Linked DNA regions of Homo sapiens. The protein of the gene in region 2 purifies or fractionates together with the protein of the main gene of each other region. This does not show direct contact. Each region holds a gene or a part of one and is shown on either strand. Other genes may lie near its edges.

What was found. Proteins that work in one complex are often made in the same cells at the same time.
Region 1: the proteins of FAM171A1 (region 2) and P4HA3 purify together in Homo sapiens (co-immunoprecipitation; one large-scale study listed by IntAct). This does not show direct contact.

The regions. Positions count from the first base shown.
Region 1 is NC_000011.10:74,270,119-74,273,642, reverse strand, and holds part of P4HA3 (prolyl 4-hydroxylase subunit alpha-3 isoform 1 precursor), read left to right. Parts: intron 1-35; coding exon 36-98; intron 99-3,524. UniProt on the Homo sapiens protein: Catalyzes the post-translational formation of 4-hydroxyproline in -Xaa-Pro-Gly- sequences in collagens and other proteins.
Region 2 is NC_000010.11:15,217,775-15,221,298, reverse strand, and holds part of FAM171A1 (protein FAM171A1 precursor), read left to right. Parts: intron 1-238; coding exon 239-355; intron 356-3,524. UniProt on the Homo sapiens protein: Involved in the regulation of the cytoskeletal dynamics, plays a role in actin stress fiber formation.

The DNA of each region.
Region 1 (3,524 bases), on a different chromosome or scaffold from region 2:
CATAAAATAATATGTTCTGTTTTTTTTTTTCTCAGTCACCAAGCAGCCCCCTCTACAGAATGAAGTCAGGAAACCGAGTTGCAACATTTATGATCTATGTGAGTATTGCTCTGGGCTTCTTACTTCATGACTGACTATAGCTCTACTTTATTTTATTGTTTTCAAAGCAATTTCACGTATTGATTTTATCTGGTACTCAGCGCAAAAATCTCCAGGAATTTTGCGAATTTCAGACAGCATTTTTGATAGGCACTGTAGGAGATGTAAAGAAATACAAGACAAGGTTTCTACCCTGAAAGAGGCTGACAGTGTGTAAATCTAAATATGACCTTGGTATGGGCAGTGGATTAGGATGGGAAGTGGAGCTCCACTGAAGGCCAAGAGATAGAGGGACTTGAACAACACAGGAGGAGGATCTGAGAATCTGTGTCCTTGAGGTCTCATGGACTAATCAGTGTTGAAAAACAACCCATAGATGAGGTTGTGGGGCTGTGGGGAGGGAGATGGATGAGGAATGAGGCAGCAGATTTACAAGAGGGAAGAACAGAGACACTGAGAGAAATTCAGCAAGTGCTGCCTCTGATGTTTAGTGAAAATTCTCTTCCTTATCTCTCTATAAAATCTTCAGTAAAATCTCCATGACTCCCCTTTCAAGATAAACCAATAAATTGTACTTCTCTCCTAATTCCTGGCCTGATCAGGATTCGGCCCCAGTCTGTATCATCTCACCTGTCCCCTTCCCTTCAGATCATGTGGGTTTACTTTCGTCTCTATGGACAAGCTTCCAATCACCTGTCACTGGAAGAGAATATTAGAATTAATCACTTATTAGAAGAGATACCTTACTGTTAACTGAAGGGACAAACATATATAAGGGTTCTATATAACAACCAAAGATGAAGTCCTTGTTTCAGCCTCATTAGAATAGCAGACATCCCTCACCCCAGCTTTTCCTCTTCTATTAGGACTGTCTCTGGTCTCCACAGGACAGCCAAGAAAGGGCAGTCAGAGGCCAGCATTCTGTGTAGTCTTTAATGCCAGCAATTCCAGTGTGTTTCTCTATGTGGCTCAGTTCTGTACTTCCTATGGAACTGGAAGGCTTCCACTTACAATGGTGTCTGGCCTCATTCTGATCATTCTGAGGTCAGCTATCAGGCAGGGGACACATCTTGGAGCTGCAGTTGGTTGCATCTCTGGTTGACCACTCCAGCTGTTATGGGAGGTCACAAACGGCGAAAGAATGAACTGCTGCCAAAAAACAGGGCATCTAGGGCACAATATATCTCTGTTCTTTATCCCCTCAATATCTCCTATGGCTGGTTCCCTGGTTACAGGGCCCCAGTTACTATAGCGAAGGTAGCGTGGGTATAAGAGCCCAGTAATTTTAAATGGCAAATGCATGTGTGTGTGTGTGTGTGTGTGTATGTGTGTGCATGCACTCTCATGCACTTTCACATGTGTGTGCATGCATGTGCATTTGGGTTTTAAGTATTTGAGACAGAGTGGAATGGAATACACTTTGGATTTGGAGTCAGTTGACCTAATCCTGATTTTGCCACTTACTATGTGGCCTCAGCACAGATTACATCTATTATGTGAGCTCACTTTTTGCCCTGTGCTTCCTCACAGTGTTGTTGTGAGGGTCTGATGAGATAATGTAAGGAGGGATGTCACTCTGGAAAGTTCCATACTGTATGTTTCTGTCATTGTATCCCACAGAGCAATTAAAGGAAAGGGTATCATAAAGGGGAATCAGTATCATGGGACCAGGGAAGTGCTAGATTATGCCCAAGTCTTTCATCTTCAGGTTGGGATTTCTCGAGACAATTTCAAGACAAACATTTCTCAAGACAAATGTTAAGGTTTGTGGGAAACCTAAGACTGATTTTATAGGGAGAAAATAATCTTTAAGAAGTACAGAGGATTGAGTTGAAGTCCAGTTGGTGATTTTCTGCTCAGATTGGACATAAGATCAGTCCCAATCTGGGTGCGGTGGTGTGCACCTGTAGTCCCCGCTACTTGGCAGGCTCAAGCAAGAAGATCGCTTGAGCCCAGCAGTTCGAGTCCAGCCTGGGTAACATAGTGAGACCCTGTCTCTATTAAAAAAAAAAGATCAGCCCCAGTACAAAATAGTAGAAGGTATACAGACGGAAGATTTCTCTCCCTTTCCCACTGTTCTTACAGCCCATGCCGTGCTCATGAGCTTCATTGCATGCAGAATCCGATTTTCTTTTTAATGTGTTGGCTATGTCATTCCTTTCCACCATATTGTAAAACCACAGGTAAAAGAATGCAGGAAAGTCCAGGTTGCCCCTTACTGACAAGGGCTAGAATAGAATAATCTAATTTGTTACCTGAACACAAGGAGCCAATTGTTGTTCTCATCGGCTTTCCCAGTGTGCTACAGGGAGAGCCAAGGAATGCTAATAGTCACCACTGCCATTTCCAGGTTCCAAATCACCATGTCAGTTCACTTGCATCTACCAAGGGCCAGCGTCCTACCTCCTATACCTCTTGCTCTGTAACACAAGTAAATGTACCGGGATCTGACTGCCATAAGATTACAGAGCATGAACCTTCTGGTAGATAATGCTAGGCAGCGTGAGGTAAAACTGGCACTCTTGTGTGATGCAACTGCTGAAAAAATAATTTAGCAAAATGTATAAGAAGTATGAAACTTATGCATGTCCTTTTGACCCCATAATACTAGTGCCAAGACTCTTTCCTATGAAAACAATCCAAAATGCAAAATGATTTTTTTTCATTAAGTTGTTCAGTGCAGTGTTGTTTATAATAGTAAACATTTGGATATGACCTAAATTTCCAAATGTGTAGCATGATGGTTATGAGCAGGGACTTTGTAGTCACATGGCACCAGCTCAGCTCAAATCCTGACTCCATCATGGAAGAGCCATGTGACCTTTTATAAAGTGCTTAAGCTCTCTGAGACTTGGTTTCTTTATCTGTAAAATGTGAAGAGTTAAAAATAATAACGATTGTAACTCCTAGGATTGTTCTGAGGAATAAATGAGATAATATATTTGCAAGGACATAGTGTAACTTTTAGCATATAGTCAGTGCCCAATAAATGTCAACTATCACTATGTAAACTATAACTTTTTTCTGGATGGTACAATGATAATTATTGTTATTTAAAAATATTTTCCTGTTTTAAAACAGTTTACAATTATTATATATTTCTGTGACAACCAGAAAAAAAGCTTCACATTAAGAAAACATATCCATAGTCCTAGAACAGACCAGTGATGAAACTCCTTAGCTTGGGTTCCCTGGAGAGGAGCAGAGTGATCTGGAGAATATGCCAAAGGTGTAATAAGTAGTTCCTATGATGCCCAGCTTTCAAGAAGAATCATAGTCTAAACTGGTTTTCAAGCCACAAGTCATGATCCATTATAGGTTGTGAGATTAATTTAGTGGTTCTGATGAGCATTTAAGAGAACCACACTAGAATAGAATAAAATAAAGTAGAGAAGATCAGAAGCTATCTCAGATATTAAGAATGT
Region 2 (3,524 bases):
TAATTTAATTGAGAAGGCAAAGGAACACTAAAGTTGCTTATCTTTCCCTGAAAGGAAATTGAAAAGAATTTCTCCAGAAAGCTGCCTGGGGTCCCTAGATGACACTTTGGCCATCTTGGTTATCTTATAGGTCATAAACATGACATTTAAGATATTTAAGATGACTTTTACAATATGCTCAAGCCTTACAAAGGAGCGTGGTGTGCTTGTAGCTAACATCTCTTTCTCAATTCCACAGGAACGTGGCTGAAGAGCGGTCTGGGTCTTGTGCACCAGGAAGGCAGCCAGCTGACGTGGACATACATTGCCCCCCAGTTGGGGTACTGGGTGGCCGCCATGTCCCCTCCCATCCCAGGTAACACGGAGCCAACACTTGCGATGATGCGGATCAGTTGCTTTGGTCTTTGAGGGTTCAGGCTAAGTATGCTCTTGAAAATAACTTCAGCAGGGCGATCACATCTTATTCAAAAATGGTTAAAAGTCTGAAAATGAGATGATGTAAAGAAGGTATTTTGCGGGGGTGGGGGACTTCTGGTTGGAAATCTTCCATCTAGGGTAAGAATAATGCATAGAAAATAGTCTTGAGTGGCTGTTTTGTTCAGACAGCTGCCATAGGGAATTCTTCATCAAAAGCCCACAGAGACCAGCAAGACCTCCTCCCTAATTCCTGAAACAGCTGTGGCCTGGTATAGGCACACATGTAGGGAAAAGCACTCCACAGAGATGCTAGTGGGAAGTCACCACTGGGGGCAAAAAGCCTGGTGGGGCATTTCCAAAATGGCTTAAACGTAAACCAGTTGCTTTGTATCTACGAGAATCTTCCCCTCCATTTAGGATATGTGCATTAATGCATATCTTTCAGAACGTGACCAATAGTTTATTTTTTTTAACCTATGTTACCCCCAAAAATATTCTAGAATTGTTGAGTTTTGTTTTGTTTTGTTTTGTTTTCAAAATGGTCATCTCAGGAGAATTATTTCCAGTGATAGCTTCTGTTGCTCAAGCTGCCTTTAGAATCTATATTACTTGGACTGCCTTCTGCCTTCATTAGTAAATCTCTTTCTTGGTGGCAAATCTTTATGCTCAAATGGCAAATCTTTATGATTTTTCTTTTTAAAGACATCTAAAAGTCATGCACATTCAAGACTGGTGAATAAAGTAGGTGACTTAGCTAGGTCGAAATGTGCTGTGATTAAAAGGTGTCTCTTGTAAATGAACCATGAAGGCAGTTCTAAAATGCAAGTTCAAATATTTTAGCAATGGAATTATCACTGGAATTAGCACTTAGACTCACAAAGTAACTGATTTGATGGAGGTCTTTCCTAAACAGGTGTGGAAAAATGTGTTACAATGACTTTATATCACCATACTAAGAAAATTTACACTTCACATCTGTTTTAAGAGTAATGTGTTTCCCTTAGCCGGGCGCGGTGGCTCACGCCTGTAATCCCAGCACTTTGGGAAGCCGAGGAGGGCGGATCACGAGGTCAGGAGATCAAGACCATCCTGGCTAACATGGTGAAACCCCGTCTCTACTCAAAATACAAAAATTAGCTGGGCGTGGTGGCACACGCCTGTAGTCCCAGCTACTTGGGAGGCTGAGGCAGGAGAATCGCTTGAACCCAGGAGGCAGAGGTTGCAGTGAGCCGAGATTGTGCCACTGCACTCCAGCCTGGGCGACAGAGCGAGACACCCTCTCAAAAAAAGAAAAAAAAGATTAATGTGTTTCCCTTGATGCTATTGTTTTTGTAGTGATATAAGCATGAACCACACGTAGAAATGCCCCATTCTCTGAATCTGAAATACCTAGATTATGACTGAAGAGAAACAAAGGAAGGAAAAGAATTGTCTTAAGCACTAAAATAAATGCCATAAAGCCCACGCATTAAAATGAACTTTAATTTTAGATGTATTTCAATCTCAGCTATTAGTTTTCCCATCATGCAGTAGATCAGTACATGCTTTTTGTGTGTGTGTGTTTTGGTTTTGTTGTTGTTGTTGTTCGTTTGTTTTTTTGAGACAGAGTTTTGTTCTTGTTGCCCAGGCTGGAGTACCATGGCATGATCTCAGCTCATGGCCACCTCCGCCTCCTGGGTTCAAGCAATTATCCTGCCTCAGACTCCAGAGTAGCTGAGATTACAGGTCTCCGCCGCCACACCTGGCTAATTTTTGTATTTTAGTGGAGACAGGGTTTCACCATGTTAGTCAGGCTGGTCTTGAACTTCTGACCTCCGGTGATCCCCCCGCCTCAGCCTCCCAAAGTGCTGAAATTACAGGCATGAGCCACTGCGCCTGTCCAGTATATGCTTTTGTAAGGCAGCATGAAGGAACTGCCAGACGTAGCTCCCCTGAGAGCTTCCTAGCAGTGAAGGAAGAGACTCAAGGCTATAAAAAGCATACACAGGCCAGGGCATGGTAGCTCACACCTGTAATCCCAGCACTTTGGGAGGCAAGGCAGGATGATCTCTTGAGCCCAGGAGTTCAAGACCAGCCTGGGCAACACAGCAAGACCCCACTTCTAAAAAAATTTTTTTTAATTAGCCAGTGATGGTAGCATTCACCTGTAATCCCGGTTACTTGAGAGGTTGAGGCAGGAGGATCCCGTGAGCTCAGGAGTTCAAGGCTGCAGTGAGCTATGATCATGTCACTGCACTCCAGCGTAGGTGACAGAGTGAGACCCCATCTCAAAAATAACACAAAGCATACCCACTACAGCCTCTGATGGTATTTAATGTAGGGATACATATGTCAGTCATCTCACAACCCACCTTTATTACAAAAAATTATACTAATATTGGGCTTTCATGAACTCAAAAGCAACAACAAAATAATTTGGGTTATGTTCCTTAACTCCTTGAAGTGAAGTATAGCTGTGAATTTTATAAAGAATCGTACTGGCAGAGATTAAAACAATAATGCTGGCCAGGCACGGTGGTTCATGCCTGTAATCCCAGGACTTTGGGAGGCCAAAGTGGGCGAATCATGAGGTCAGGAGATCAAGACCATCCTGGCTAACACGTTGAAACCCTGTCTCTACTAAAAATACAAAAAATTTGCCAGGCACAGTAGCACACACCTGTAGTCCCAGGTACTCAGGAGGCTGAGGCAGGAGAATTATCCGAACCTGGGAGGCAGAGGTTGCAGTGAGCCCAGATCGTGCCACTGCACTCCAGCCTGAATGATAGAGTGAGACTCCATCTCAAAACAAAACAAAACAAAACAATAATGCTTTGAGTACTTAAAGGACGAAGCATCAGTATTTGGAAATACTTTTATGTGTACCCTAAGTTTCTTGGTGACTCCTGACAAAGCTTTGCTACATCCGTGGGAATTGTCTATTGTCTTTGCATGAAAAAATTGTTTCTCTGGGCCGGGTGCGGTGGCTCATGCCTGTAATCCCAGCACTTTAGGAGGACGAGGCAGGTGGATGATGAGGTCAGGAGTTCAAGACCAGCCTGGCCAAGATGGTGAAACCCCATCTCTACTTAAAAAAATTAGCCAGGCATGGTGGCGGGCGCCTATAA